Regions from separate parts of the Homo sapiens genome. Here region 2 is linked to region 1. A link means that fine-mapping ties the variant in region 1 to the expression of a gene that starts in the linked region. Tissue or cell type: thyroid. Region 1 holds a variant in brackets; the other region holds the start of a gene. All regions are shown on one strand. Distances are between the middles of the regions.

What was found. PIP is the estimated chance that this variant, and not a neighbour inherited with it, causes the effect.
Region 2: it holds the start of STX19, and the variant in region 1 is fine-mapped to the expression of STX19 in thyroid (GTEx, PIP 0.98).

What each region holds. Positions count from the first base shown.
Region 1 is chr3:93,887,366-93,895,557 of GRCh38, forward strand. PROS1 (protein S) reads right to left here. Exons shown (of 15, transcript NM_000313.4): 10 at 5,568-5,757. Among named protein-coding and RNA genes, the nearest start is that of PROS1, 82 kb to the right of the region's middle. The variant C/T (reference allele first, on the strand shown) is at 3,250.
Region 2 is chr3:94,023,653-94,031,844 of GRCh38, forward strand. STX19 (syntaxin 19) reads right to left here and starts at 4,945. Exons shown (of 2, transcript NM_001001850.3): 1 at 4,715-4,945. All of the region lies in intron 3 of ARL13B (ARF like GTPase 13B), which reads left to right.

The DNA.
Region 1 (8,192 bases):
GTTGTTTGGGTTTTTAAAAAAGGTTTCAAGTAAGGGTAAACAACAATAAAAATTCCTTCTACAAAGGCAATTTGAAGAACCACTGCTGCAATCACTTCAAGTAAAACTATAGCACTCAAAGAGCAAACTCTTCACTCACTAACCAATAATATAAGCCAAACAATAAGCATATTAAAACACCATGATAGGAAGGGAAAAACTATCCTCCAACATAAAATAAATTTAGTTACACAAATTTAAAGTTGGTCAACACTCCTTCTTTAATATAGCCAATTAGCAGCATGTGAACAACTATTCTCTCCTTTACAGACTTTCTTAACTTAGCCTACAACACTTGACCCTGATTGCTTCTCTTTCTACACTCTAACCACTACTTCTCAGTCTCCTTTGCTGGATCCTCCCCTCCCCACAGCTCAGGCCCCAGACCTTTTTCCTGTAGCCATGCAAGTATTTTAAGTGAGACACTATGACTCCACTCCAGGGCATTTGGAAAATTTGGAGGTGAGGAACACTTTTATTTGTCACAATGAGTAGGGGCCATGCTGGCACTGCAAGATGATAGACAATCTGCATTATGTACATAGGCTAGTCATGCAGAATTAATAATAATAAGTAATGCAGAACTAATAATAAAATATCAAGTATTCTTAAAATCTTTTGAACATCACTGCTAGGTATTCATGTAGGGAATATTCATGCTTACAATCATCTGAGTTTGTGCATACATAGACACAAAATATTTGCTGCACTATTTTAGCATTCATTACATTTTTCAAGAATGTAATAATCTTGACAACTAAGGATAGATTGATATTTGTTTTGTTCATATCTTTACCAGGAACTTCCCACCACTTTGGAAAATTAATATTACCAATGGCAACACCATGTATGCCCTTAATGGTACTTGAGTTGCTAATTTAACACCCCAGCATTAGTCTTCATTTGTAGCTTTTACTTTATGCATAGAAGCAAGCTTTGACAAGTGTTATAGTTATAGTTGACTACGTATATATTGAAATACATATTATTTTCTTATAAATTACTTTCCTTTTATTTATCCATATTAATATAATAATGACAGAATTATTTTGGTTTTGATTGGGTATATGTGAAGGTAGTTTATATTACTGATACATTTCATTATAGAATAGTAAAGGAGCATTATATATTTTCAGACATTGGATGAGATAGTGTTTGGAACCACTGGTCAACACAAACAGTTTCATGGCCTTAAAACCCCTCTTTATGCTGAGTATTCAAAAATTTTAATTGAAGGCTTAACTTCAAAAATATATCCAGAATCTGACCACTTCTTACCACTCTTACCATCAGCACACCAGTCAAACTGTCATCTTCTCTCCGCTGGGTTATTCCAACAGTCTCCTAACTCCATATCCCCATATCCTGTTATACACTCATTCTCCACTTCTGGTTTCCACAAAGCCATTAGCTTCTGATTGGGATTATCTTTTAAAATGCAAACTAGATCATGTCCCTTCTCAAAACCATCCAGGGCCTTTCAATTTAGCATAAAATCCACATCCTCATCATGGCCTCCAAGGCCCTAGATGATCTTATTCTAGACCACGTTTCTAACCTCATTTTCTAACTACTCTCCCCTGCTGCTACACTACTCTGTGTTATTCCTCAAATACCAAACACATCCTATTCCAAGAAATTCTGTACTTGCTGTTTACATGGTACAGAATCTTTTTATATTCCCTCATTTATTTCTCATGACATGTGCTCTCAAGTCTCAGCTCAGATCTAATCTCATCAGAGATGCCTTTCCTGATTCTATATGCATACTAACCACCATTACTCTCTATGTCTTTGTCTGGCTTTTCTTTTTCCTTATAACATGAATAACTATCTGGCATATTTATTTTTTCATGCATTTGTTGTTTGCGTCTCACCATTAGAACGCAAGCTCCATAAGAGCACTGACTTTTTTTTATTTGCTGTTGTATCTTTACCACCTAGAATAAGGATTAGCACATAGAAGTGCCAATAAATATTTTGCTGAATGAATTATGATACATTTACAATTAAAATTCCTATTAATATTAGACTCATAATCAAAGATAAGATGTAATCATTTATAAATTCACCACGTTTGCCCAAGTGTGCTTTGTTTGTACCTCTAATGTAATGTATTTCATGTTACATTATATTATTTCCCAAAGAAGCATCAGCTACTTATCTGTGAGGTACTAAGCTCTAGAGCAAGGAAAATCTCTTGCTATTGTTGCGGGAAGTCAGGGACCCCGAATGGAGGGACTGGATGGAGCCACAGCAGAGGAACATAAATTGTGAAGATTTCATGGACATTTATTAGTTTTCAAATAATACTCATAATTTCTTACACCTGTCTTACTTTAATCTCTTAATCCTGTTATCTTCATAAGCTGAGGATCTACATCACCTCAGGATCACAACTGTGTTAACTGTACAAATTGATTGTAAAACATGTGTGTTTAACAATATGAAATCAGTGCACCTTGAAAAAGAACAGAATAACAGCGATTTTAGGGAACAAGGGAAGACAACCATAAGGTCTGACTGCGTGCAGGGTCGGGCAAAATAGAGCCATATTTTTCTTCTTGCAGAGAGCCTACAAACGGACCTGCAAGTAGGGAAGATATTGCTAAATTCTTTTCCTAGCAAAGAATATTAATAATTAATACCCTGGGGAAGGAATGCATTCCTGGGAGGAGGTCTATAAATGGCCGCTCTGGCAGTGTCTGTCTTATGCAGTTGGGATAAGGACTGAAATACGCCCGGGTCTCCTGCAGTACCCTCAGGCTTATTAGGGTGGGGAAAAAACCCCACCCTGGTAAATTTGAGGTCAGACCAGTTCTCTGCTCTCAAAACCTGTTTTCTGTTGTTTAAGATGTTTATCAAGACAATACGTGCACCGCTGAACATAGACCCTTATCAATAATTCTGCTTTTGCCCTTTGGCTTGTGGTCTTTGTTGGACTCTTTATCAGTAGTTTCTGATTTTGCCCTTGTCCTGTTTCCTCAGAAGCATGTGATCTTTGGTCTCCTTTTTGCACTTTGAAGCATGTGATCTTTGTGACCTACTCCCTGTTCTTACACCCTCTCCCCTTTTGAAATCCTTAATAAAAACTTGCTGGTTTTGTGGCTCAGGTGGGCATCACAGTCCTATCGATATGTGATGTCACCCCTGGAGGCCCAGCTGTAAAATTTCTCTCTTTGTACTCTTTCTCTTTATTTCTCAGCCAGC[C/T]GACACTTATGGAAAATAGAAAGACCCTACAATGAAATATTGGGGGCAGGTTTCCCCGATATGCTATAGTTCTAATGCCTTGAACTCAGGAACTTAGCATCAAAAGCACTCACTAAAAGCTTACTGAATAAATGAGTGCATGTCTGCATAAATGAAGGACCAAAATAATTTAGTGATGACCTCACATGACTTCTCAATACAAACTTCTTGTCTGGGTGCAGTGGCTCACACCTGTAATCCCTGCACTTTGGGAGGCTGAGGAGAATTGATCACCTGAGGTCTGAAGTTCAGGACCAGCCTGGCCAACATGGTGAAACCTGTCTCTACTAAAAATACAAAAACTACCTGGGCATGGTGTCAGGCACTGATAGTCCCAGCTACTCGAGAGGCTGAGACAAGAGAATCACCTGAACCCAGGAGGTAGAAGTTGCAGTGAGCAGAGATCACTGCACTCCAGCCTGGGTGACAGAGCAAGACTCCGTCTCAAAATAATAGTAATAATAGTGATGATAAATAAATAAATAACATAAATAAATAAATTGAGATCAGCACAAACTTCTTGCCAGCTCCTCTAGGCATAAAAGATGTCTCTTTTGTGCACCACATTCTAAGGTGAAGCCAATCTTCTCTCAGCTATCCTCTGCTGATGGCAGCAATGACTCTATACTTCAGAAAAGACTTCTCCCCACTATCAACTAGCAGTAATCCCTTCAGAAAAGTCCCACTTTAATCCAGTTGATTAAAGTGCTATTCTTGATCATTAGATTAAAGGCTATATGTAGGATTAAATTAAAATGCTAATTTCTTTTCTTTCTTTCTTTCTTTTTATTTTTGAGACAGTCTTGCTTTGTCACCCAGGCTGGAGTGCAGTGGCGTGATCTCGGCTCACTGCAACCTCCGCCTCCTGGGTTTAAATGATTCTCCTGCTGGGATTGCAGGCGTGCGCCACCAAGCCTGACTAATTTTTGTATTTTTAATAGAGATGGGGTTTCGCCATGTTGGTCAGGCTGCTCTCGAACTCCTGATCTCAGGTGATCCACCTGCCTTGGCCTCCTAAAGAGCTGGGATTACAGGCATGAGCCACTGCGCCCAGCCTAAAATGCTGATTTCTAAGCACACTGGTACCTGCTAATGTATATCATTTGCACAAAAACTGACAACTAGGTCCGGTACAATGGCTCATGCCTGTAATCCCAGCACTTTGGGAAGCCAAAGTGGGAGGAGGATTCCTTGAGTTCAAGACCAGCCTGGGCAACATAGCAAGACCCTGTGTCTATTTTTTTTTAAGGATTACTTATCTATCTGCTTATATTTGAATTTGAATTACCTTTTTAGACTTGTTACTATGTTTATTTCTCCTTACTTTAAAAAATATTGTTGGCAATTGAGGAGTTTTCCTTGATCAGTGTTGTCTTTGCATAAATTGTTATGCCAGCCGGGTGTGGTTGCTCACTCTTGTAATCCCAGCACTTTGGGAGGCCGAAGTGGGTGAATAGCTTGAGCCCAGGAGTTTGAGACCAGCCTTGCCAACATGGTGAAAACCTGTCTCTACTAAAATTACAAAAATTAGCCAGGTATGCTGTTGCACACCTGTAATCCCAGCTACTCAGGAGGGTGAGGCACAAGAATCTCTTGAACCTAGTAGGTGGAGGTTGCAGTGAGGCAAGACCATGCCACGGCACTCCAGCCTGGGCAGACAGAGTGAGACTGTCTCAAAAAAAAAAAATATGCTAGCCGCGGTGGCTCACATCTGTAATCCCAGGACTTTGGGAGGCCAAGGCAAGTGGATCACCTGAGGTCTGGAGTTCGAGACCAGCTGGACCAACACGGAGAAACCCCGTCTCTACTAAAAACACAAAATTAGCCGGGCATGGTGGCGCATGCCTGTAATCCCAGCTACTCGAGAGGCCAAAACAGGAGAATCACTTGAACCTGGGAGGTGGAGGTTGCAGTGAGCTGAGATCACGCCACTGCACTCCAGCCTGGGCAACAAGAGCAAAACTCTGTCTCAAAAAAAAAAAAAAATGTTAGGCCTCCTAATAGTCCCTAACACCACTGTTCACCAAACAGCAACTAAAAAAGGTAAAAAGTTAAAGACAGAGTAGTTCAAGCAAATAACTAAAAACAATGATTCTAATATATTAAGTGAGAATATTATTTCTCAGGATGCTTCAGGGATTTACAGTATGTAGAATATACCTCATATAGCATCAGATAACTCCAAATCCATTTTGGTTTGGTATCACTATAAAAATAAATTATGATTTTATACAGACTGCATCAAAGTGGGAAGATATTGATGAAATCTGCAAACGTACCATATTCCATAGACCATTATTAATAACATCACCTCCAGTTGTGATTTTGGATGTATGTTCATTCTTAAGCTGAACTTCAATCTTTCCACCACGAAGTGCAATCAGGAGCCACGCTGAGTGATCGATAGATTCTGCGTACAGTATCACGCCTTCTGAATCATATGTCCGGAAATCAAATTCTGCTGAAAATCTAAACAATGGACAAAGAGAGATCCTTAAGAGTAAGAAATACAGAAAGCTCAATGCATTATTCTTTTTTTCTTGTACTGACAAACAGTAACACAGACAAAGAGTCAATTATTTATTTCTTTTTCTGGAATTAATAAAAGAGAAGGGCAGAATTAGACTGCTCATGTATTATCTCTGGTTCCATGTACGTTTAAAATTAAGTTATTATATTTTCTTGCTTATTCTTGGAATCTTTTCCCCAGGGAACAGATGCTTTGGTAATTTGTCATCTTTCTTTGACATATATTTTGATAGCACCTTCCAAATGCTGAAATTAATACACAGGTATAAGTATCAGGCATACTATATCTCTCCTGGAGCCTTTTATACACTATATAATCTGACATTAAGAAGTGGTAGTTTTTTTTGTTGTTGTTCTTTTTTGTTTGTTTTTGTTTTTGCTGTATCCATAAGTGATCATAAAATGTGTTACAATTTCATCGTTGGTTTATTCATCAAAAGGCATATTTTCCCTATAATTTCACATGTCAGGAATCACTCGTGGAGATCTACAAGATGGCACATGGATGACTGCAGACATCATTAAGCCTTCATGTGTGGTAAGAAAGGTAAAATTTAAAAACTTAAAATATATCTATTAGCTTTCCTAAAACTCCAGTTGCATAAGTCACTGTTGTAGAATACACAGAAGGAAAACTTAAAAGACATAGTCTACCCATGTGTTTGGGGGGTATCTGAGTGCTGGCAACATCTGTTGCTATTAAGACTCTAGACATATATGTAGCTATTACAGGGGAGAAAAGTCTTAGGATGCAGGACTTAAAATAACATGTGTTGATTCAGTATCCTTAAAACACTTCAATGAGAATCAGCATTGAAGTTTCCAAGGGACTAGCAAATCCACATGATTGACGAAAGACAAACAGGGAAAAGGAACAATAGGTGTATAACTATTAGTCACCTAACTTAAAATAAAGGCAATTTAAGTTAAAGAGTCTGGACTTCAGATAATTGCTATATTAGGCAGGACAGAATCCCACACTCTTACCGCAATATAGTAAAATAGTAATAGTAATAGAGGCACCATTTGCAATGGGGCACGTATCTCCCTCAAATGGAACAAAGAAAAGGTGACAAAATGAATGTTTTCATCTTTAGAATTCCAAAGAAATATTTAAAAAGAGGTAAAATGTGGAGTAAAGTATGTTGGATGGATAACAATGTAGTAGGAATTTACTGAACTCAGATTATGAAAAAAAGAACAATTTTGCTTGGAATAAGGACTTCTATGCTCTTTCATAATTATCTGAGCATTTTGCTGATGTGAAGCAATATTATCTTGCCAAAATCCAAATCTGTGTATGCTCAGGATCTTCCAGCAGTTGATTCTATTATGGAGATAATTTCCTTTTCTTTGTAAAATCAGGCTGAAATCATAGTTTCAAAGGGTCATGTTCTGCATATTTTGTTTCTGGAATATATCAGCAGCATATTGATTCATTACAATGGGGAACAATTCATTCTTTTTCACAAGCATGGTAAACAGGAAAATAGAATGAATTTGTTGACATTTACGGAGGGAAAGTATTTGATCATGAGCAACAGACGTCAAGAAATTTGCAAAAATAAATAAAAGCACTAGCTATTCTTTGTGTTGATCACACAAGGGGCAGTTTATAAAAATTCATCAAGCTATACATTTAATCTAATGTGTACATATCGGTACATACTTTATATTTCAATGAAAAGTTTAAAATAAATAAATAATAAATTCTGGAAAAAATAATTTGTCCAATTCTGATCCCATGTTAGAGATCAAACTACTATGAATCGTCAGTGAGAAATGAACAAACTCCTGGAGATTGGCTCCAGGACCTCTGGATGGTATCAATATCCACAGATGCTCAAGTCCCTTATATAGAATGGCATAGTATTTGCATATAACCTATGCACATCCTCTCACGTACTTTAAGTCGTCTCTACATTATGTATAATACTCAATACAATGCAAATGTATGTAAATAGTTGTCATACTGTATTGTGTCTCATTTGTATTATTTTGTATTGTATTGTCATTGTGTTTTTTTCTGAATATTATCTACCCGAGGTTGGTTAAATCCACAGATGAGGAACTCAAGGATTTGGAGGATCAATTGTATTCCTAAAAGTGTTATTTACTAGAACTAATATTTTTCTCTCATTATTATTCTCATAGCAGGGAAGAGTTTTCTCCAATCTCTATCATTAGAAGATATTAGTTGCTCTGTGATGTTAAAGGAAAAAACCACATATTGGCAGAAATAAAGTGTGGAAGGAGCACTGTTACTTAAGTATTTATGTAAGTTATTGATCTTAGAATAATTTTCAATGTTTTTAATAACGTCTATGAATTTAGTTGAATTATTTAATGAATAATCATTCATGTATCTAACATCA
Region 2 (8,192 bases), 140 kb after region 1:
TAAAAGGTGGCAGATCCTACGTTTAGACATATCTACTTGATTGCAAATCTGTTCTTTTTCCCCTATTGTCTATTGAGTAGAAATTGGTTATCCTAGTGAAATATACACAAATAATGTTTATCTATATCAAATACTGTATTATGTTACTAATATACATACTATATCTATTTAAAAGAAAAAATTTAGCAGGAGATAATATAGCATATAGGATCTAAAATAATGTTGTTGTTTGAAGCTTTATTAGGATCTTTAATATAATCAGACCAAATTGATCACTTTACACTATAAAAGAAGAAAAATAATTTGGATCTCACAGACTGATGTTTACAGAAAGTCTAAGAAATATTGCATTTTATATTTGGTACTATATGGAGATTGATATTCTTATATTTTCTTCTGCTTCAACTCATAGTCATCTAACCAAATTTCTGTTTCCTTCTCTTGTACTAGCTTGTCACTATGAATTGTTTTTTAAAAATTAATTAATTAATCAATTAATAGAGAAAGGATCTCGCTCTTTTGTCCAGGCTGGTCTTGAACTCCTAGCCTCAAGGGATCCTTCCACCTTGACTATGAATTCTTAAAAATACAGCATATATAGCTGAAGTGCTAGTTGCCACATTATTATTTTTTAAACTGGGTTGCACCCGTGTAAATATAGGGAAAAAGAAAGAGTAACAATGTTAGAAGCTCAGAGGCGAGAGAAAGAGAAAGTGGCATCAAACAAAACAGATTTTGATTTTCTATCCATAAAAATTAAGTCCTATATTTATACAATGGTTCAGTAGCTTTTAACAATCTTTAATTTTCACATTCCTCAAGAACTACAACATCTTGAACTTTCTCTTTGGTTGCATGGTTTGGAACAAATCCTGAAACAACTCCCTCTAATGTTTTTATGACTGGAAAGATCTTTGTCCTTTTTTGGGCGTGTTGTTTTGTTTTATTTTTGAGATAGGATCTCACTCTATCACCCAGGCTAGAGTATAGTGGCTCAATTGCGGCTCACTGCAGCCTCTACCTCCCAGGCTCAAGTGATCCTTCTCCCTCAGCCTCCCGAGTAGCTGGGACTACAGTTGCATGCCACTGTGCTTGGCTGATTTTTTAAAATTTTTTGTAAAGATGAGGTCTTGCTGTGTTGCTCAGGCTGATCTCTAACTCCTGGGCTCAAGCAATCTTCCCACCTCCGCCTCCCAAAGTGCTGGGATTATAGGCATGAGCTAGTGCACCCAGCCTCTTTTTTAAAAAAATTAGAAATAAAGTAATCAAAAGCCTTTTTCTAAAGCATCATAGTTTAAAAATTTTTAAGAAATAGACTATTTCAAATTGCTATTGGAGCACAGTGTACACAGGCCTCTGGGAAGGTGAATTTTCCTGTGAAGTGCCTTTGAGAAGGTGCATTTTACTGCCACTGATTTTGGAAAGCAGGATATTTGAGTCTGACCTCTATAAAGGTTGTTTTTTTCCTGGATTTTTATCCATGTAATATCATTCCCTGAACATGCACCACACTTTTATATTTGAATAAAAGGTACTTTAAGGAGCCCTTTAAAATATATTAATATGTCCTTTTTATTAATCTTAATGAATTTACAAGCAAAAAACAAAATATCCTTTTTTTAATATCTGTATACATTATTGATATTAAAGGCAAAACATGGAAATAGAATCAGGTTTCCTTTCAGTGTTATACATCATGGCAATGCGTATTATGTAAACGATGTTTAAAGTGAGCTATAAAGGTTATACTGTGTTTGTCTTGGTTTATGGATCCTATGCCTGTATTTCTTTTGAACATTTAGAGAATATTTATGTGAAAGATCCTTTACATTATTAGGTTATTTCTAGTTTCTTAGGAGTAAATTCCTATGTTTGCTGTGGCCACGGACTGGTGACCACTCTGTTAAATGTGGGCAAGTGTATTTAGTGAAATTCGTCAGTAGCCTAGCTTCATTGGGGAGTTATACAAGAATGCTCTGAGTGTCCTGATCAATTATGGATACATTGAGGCTATTTTTTTGATTGTCACTACCAACGCCCCATGGAGTTTGCCCCTTGTAGCCCAGGTAGTATTATGTAGGCCTAATTTTTCTCTAGTGATTTTTATAGCCTAAGTGGATATCTCACTTCCTGCTATAATCCTGGGCAAGTCAACAGAGTTATTCCTGTCTTTGTATACAGATTATGTTGTATTATTCCTAGTTAACTGTTTCATCTAGGAAACTCAGTTTTAGTTCCCTATAATGCAACAAACTCTAAACCTCAGCTTTAAGGTAAAGTATTTGCCCAGTGTAATTAGCTTTAATTACTACTCTTCACTTTGGCTTTAAGTATGTTTCCTCATCATTTCTGGCACCTGAAAACTTCTCTTTTTTTTTTTTTTTTGAGACGGAGTCTCTCTCTGTCGCCCAGGCTGGAGTGCAGTGGCACCATCTCGGCTCACTGCAAGCTCCGCCTTCCGGGTTCACGCCATTCTCCTGCCTCAGCCTCCAGAGTAGCTGGGACTACAGGCGCCCGCCACCACACCCGACTAACTTTTTATATTTTTAGTAGAGATGGGGTTTCACCGTGTGAGCCAGGAGAAAACTTCGCTTTTTTACTCTAAAATTTAGTGATGTTGTTTTAAAATTTGTCTTTTTTAAACTTACGATTACATCAAATTCTGTATGTTTAGAGAAAGAGGGAGTAACTTCTGTATCTGTGCATTTTGACTGAAAGTCACAGTTGCTTATCTTTATAGAATTAACATAATTGAGAATGTTTCCCTAAATCCTTGTTCATCTGTGTAGAAATTGACTTGATAGGTACTCAAATATGTTTATATGCTGTATATAAATTACATTTTCTAGTAGTTGCATACTCATAACTATATGTATAACTATCCAATTTATTGATCTTATATCTTCATGAATTAGAATGTTAGGCAAAATGAGACAAATAAGCATGTTAGAATTTAAAACATGCAAGGACAGGATTCATATAAGCATAAAATATGAAGCTCATAGTTGTGAAATCATTTAATTGCTTAGACTAGGTGAAATTGATGAAATTACTATTTTATGCAGTCTGTTATGTACCTTAAATTTATTATGTTGGAAGAGTTATATACAAATATGAATCATCTTTTATTATGTTTAACTTGCAGCATTGCTATACAGTTTTGAATTTTACTAGCAAGAACTGTATCTGTGAGCTTAAACATGATATTTAAAAAAGAAAGAACACTAACTCGTATGTATGATAATCAACTTGGACAACTTGTTCTGGGAAATAGAAAAGTAAACTGGTGCGACTCAAATAAAAGGTTCTCTGCCCTATTACAGACACTGAAAATCCCTAGAAACAGAAACATGAGTAAAAATTACCTTGTACTTTTAGAAATATGCCCTGGGATAGATACTTAGTGTATTTATAGATTTTTTTAAAGTAGGCCATTTCTTTTCATAGTTACTGTAATGATTAAATAAAACATTTCAAGAAATATGACCAGTTTTTACCCAAGAGAAAACAGAATATTCTGTTGCTTTTGTATATGAAGTCAACTTGCCACATTTTTCTAGTGCAAGTGAAAGCAGAGGATCTTATTGTAATATATTAACCTCTTTGGCTACTAAAGTGAGGGCCAAATAGTAGTTTCTAAAAACTAAAAAAAAATTGCAAATTGCATATATTGTCTAATTTTGAAGTATCTGACTTTTTTTGCAATGTAAACTTTCAATGCTTTTTTCTACATTTTATTTAGTCTAAATAACTTATTGAATTAACTTGTATAACAACATTAAGATCATTTTTGTTTAAATATGATGTATAATTTTTGAACTTTTATCTGATTCAAGTAAGCTGTACATACATAAAATGATTTTTATATTACATTTAAAACTGCATAGCTGTGAAGATAATGTGTTCGAGGTATTACGTGGCCAATTCTCAAGTCCACCTTTAAAATACATATAAAAGTCATTATTATTTTGATTTGAAATGGAATATTTATTAAATTCTAACATAGTAACAATTATAACTTTGAAAGTATCTAACCTATCTACATATGTTGTATTTAAATGATGCTGATTTAAATTTTTCAAACTATCAATTAAATGCTAACACTTACGTTAAATGGTATAACAAGTATTTTTAATGTACTAGTTGAAATATTATAAAGGTTAGTGAGTACTTCGATATTTTCTGGTAGCCCTTTCACAAGATTATTTTCTCATTTTTTCAATTTTAGAAGATTCTAGTAAACAACAATGAAGCAATTAAGACCATTATAGCAAATTATTTCAGATTTTTAAGGTTATACGTATGTGTCAAATTTGGGTATAAGCTGCTTTTCAGAGTGAAATATAAAAATGTTCTCTAAAGTAAGCACATTCATAGTCTGTCTATAAAAGAAATAATTTTAGATCTGTTTTTACATCTGACTTTCTAGTATTTTTTAAATGAGAGCTTACTTTTTAAAAGACTTAAAAATTTTTTCTTTCCTCTAAAGTTGATTTTTATTATCGTAGTCTATTTTCAAGAGCTTTATACCCAGATCCCAGTCAGCATGTCAGTAATATATGTGAACAAATCAGCTACTGGTACCCCGGTCCAAATCTGAGCAAAACAAGTAACCCTCATTATTTGTTGAGTGATTTTTAAATGTAACAGTGTAACCAGATGTCAGTCTATGGATACCTCATATTAAAAAGTACAGAAAAGAGTCATTATTTACCTTTCTGTTTTCTTCCTTTTGTTGGTTTTCCACCTGCGGTGTTGGAGTCCTGCCTTTGAGAGAATATCTGAATATCATCTCATGTTTTGAACAAATTATCTAAATCTCTGTCTTATAGGGCACAGACTAATTTCTGTATAGTTTTCATGTTGTTAATTTGAAAGCCAAATAATGAAGTCAAATAAGAGATAAAGTTGTACGTTTGCTGTTAATAGCAAGTGAAAATAGATTGCTTACTTCACACCTGGAGAATCTGGTTCTGCCTGTTAGACGCCTATTCTTTAGATTAAAGGAAGATCATTTTCATTGGAGCTAGTCGGTAACAGGAAGTCCTCGTTAAACTGCCTACGTAGAGTATTTGGCACTGGATCTGCAAATTTAGTCCTACATTGTATATGTAATATATTATTCCAAGAAAATGGGTTTGTATTTAAACAAAGGTTACTTTCTTTTCTATAGATATCAAAACTTACTAAAAATATGGAATTAAATAGGAATGAAAAGAAGCTTGGTGTAAAAGCTTTTTTTGTTCCATTTACTTTAAAATGGTTGAAATCTGTCCTATTTTAGGAAATCCCAAAAGAGCTTAGCTCACAAAATCATAGAATTTCAGAAGGAGAACATCCAGGAAAGAGCTCATGTCTGTAAACCATTCATCCCACGTTACTTTTAATTTTTTTTACTTTTTATTATGCCTGCTGTTTTTATTTTAAAATAAATTTTATATAGAACTAAAGTTATCCAGCAATATATGTTAAATCATTTATTTTGTCAATATAACAACTCAAAATTAATTTATACCAGAGGGAAATGTTTATAGGAAGAATTAAAAATGAAAATTTCTCTTGTACTACCAAATTTCAGACCCATTTTTTCTACCTGACTTGTTACTATTTGAGGGCAAGAAGAAGGAAATTGCTGTATCTATCAAAATCATATATATATATATATATATATATATATATATATTTATTTTTTTTTTATTTTTTTTTTTTTTTGAGAAGGAGTCTTGCTCTTGTAGCCCAGGCTGGAGTGCAGTGGCACGATCTTGGCTCACTGCAACCTCCGTCTCCCGGGTTCAAGCAATTCTGCTGCCTGAGCCCCATAAGTAGCTGGGATTACAGTTGCCTGCCACCACGCCCAGCTAATTTTTTTGTAGAAATGGGGTTTCACCATGTTTGCCAGGCTGGTCTCGAACTCCTGACCTCAGGTGATCCACCTGCCTCAGCCTCCCAAAGTTCTGGGATTACAGATGTGAACCACCATGCCCGGCCAATCACATTTATATTTATTCTTTGTTTTAACAGTTCTACTTCCTGGAATCTGTACTCAAAATAAGAAATGACTCCTTTACACACCTACTTTTTATAGCACTCTTTGTAAAAACAAAACACTGGAAACACAAAAGTCCTTCAGCGTAGAACTGGCTGAATAAATGATGGAACATTCAAAGGGGAGCATTTTGCAATTATAGAAAATAGTGAAGATTTTATTATACTGCTTCAGGGTACTTCAAAATTTACTGTTCAGTTAAAACAAGCATGCTGCAGAAGAATATATATAATATGCTAAGTTTTAGGAAGAAAGGAAGGGTAGATATAAATATTGTATATATACACAAATACATAAACCAGTCAATAGCATTGAATATTCACAGTGCCCAAATTATGGTCCTTGAAATACCATTTTCTCCATACGCTTGTTTATATTTTCAAAAAGAAATAATGGGAGGATGAACTAAACACGAATGAAAATGGTTACCTATAAGGGAAGGGAAGGAAAAGGCAGAGAGATAGCAAATAGTTCCTTTCTGATTGTACCTTGTTTTTATAGTTCTGAATTTAGAACCATATAAATATTTTTTTATTTTTATTTTTTGAGACAGGGTCTCACTCTGTCACCCAGCCTGGAGTGCAGTGGCGCGATCTCGGCTCACTGCAACCTCTGCCTCCTGGGTTCAAGCGATTCTCATGCCTCAGCCTCCCGAGTAGCTGGTATTACAGGTGCACGCCACCACGCCTGGCTCATTTTTTTTTTTTTTTTTTTTTAGTAAAGACAGGGTTTCACCATGTTGGCAAAGCTGGTCTTGAACCCCTGACAAATGATCCACCCACATTGGCCTCCCAGAGTGCTGAGATTACAGGTGTGAGCCACCACGTCCAGCCGATATAAATATTTTAGAAATTAAATCTTAAAACAAATACACAAACGATCTCTAAAATGCAAAAGCACCTAGAAAGAAATGAACCTAGGTATATATCTAGGTGATGGCAAAACCACACAGAGAAGTACTATTTTAAGTAATTTTAAAACAGTATTATTGACTCTGCATCTCTAGTGGGATATAGCGTAGAGACAAAGATACGTAACCACAAAGATATGTTAACCTGCACTTAGTAGTCTTAATATTTAGTAATCATATTGATATTATTATGTTAAAATTCCTATATATAGTTGGATAAAACAAATAATGTCATTAGAAACTGTAGTTTTCAGCATAAGTAAAAAGAGATACAAATAAGATCTAAGGCTGGGCACAGTGGCTCATGCCTGTAATCCAGTACTTTAGGAGGCTGAGGCAGGAGGATTGAGCCTAGGAGTTTGAGACCAGCCTGGGGAACATAGTGAAACCCCATCTCTGCTAAAATAATTTTTTAAAAAAAGAACGTTCGAACACTAGCTGGGCATAGTGGTATGCGCCTGTAGTCCCAGCTACTTGAGAGGCTGAGGTGGGAGGATGGCTCAAGCCTGGGAGGTAGAGGCTGTAGTGAGCTGTTGTCACACCTCTGCACTTAAGCCTGGGCAACAGAGTGAGACCCTGTCTCAAAGAAATAAACAAAAACAAGATTTAAGAAGCTAAGTAAAACTTGGTAGTTGATTTGAAATGAAAAAATCAACACGAATACATGGTTAGATTTTTTTTTTTTCTAGAATAAAACTATTTCCTAGCTTTGTGCACTGAAAGGGCCTAGAAGCAGTAGTAAGTCAATAGCAAATGTTTATCTATAACTCCTAGGTTTTAGTCTTTAAAATGCCATTTTCCACTGAAAAGATCAAGGCTTCTTGGGGAAATGGATGATTGCAAGTCTGGAACCTTGTTTCATAGTAGAACATAAAGAAGCTATCAAAGACTGTTGGAGTTGTACCAAAAGGGTCCAAGAGCCAACCTGAAGGGGACTCCTGCTGCCTCAAAATGGGTACCTTTGAGCCTTAAAAAGAGCAATAACTGCAACAAATTGAAACACATCAAATACATTTTTAAATCCATAAGTTCATAATGATGCCTCTCAAAATAAGAAAAAGTACCAAAAAGCCTGAATAGCCAAAGCAGTCCTAAGCAAAAAGAACAAAGCTGGAGGCATCATATTATCTGACCTTAAATTATACTACAAGGTTATTGTAACCAAAGTAGCATGGTACTGGTATAGAAATAGATGAATAGATCAATGGAAAAGAATAGAGAACCCAGATGATGGGT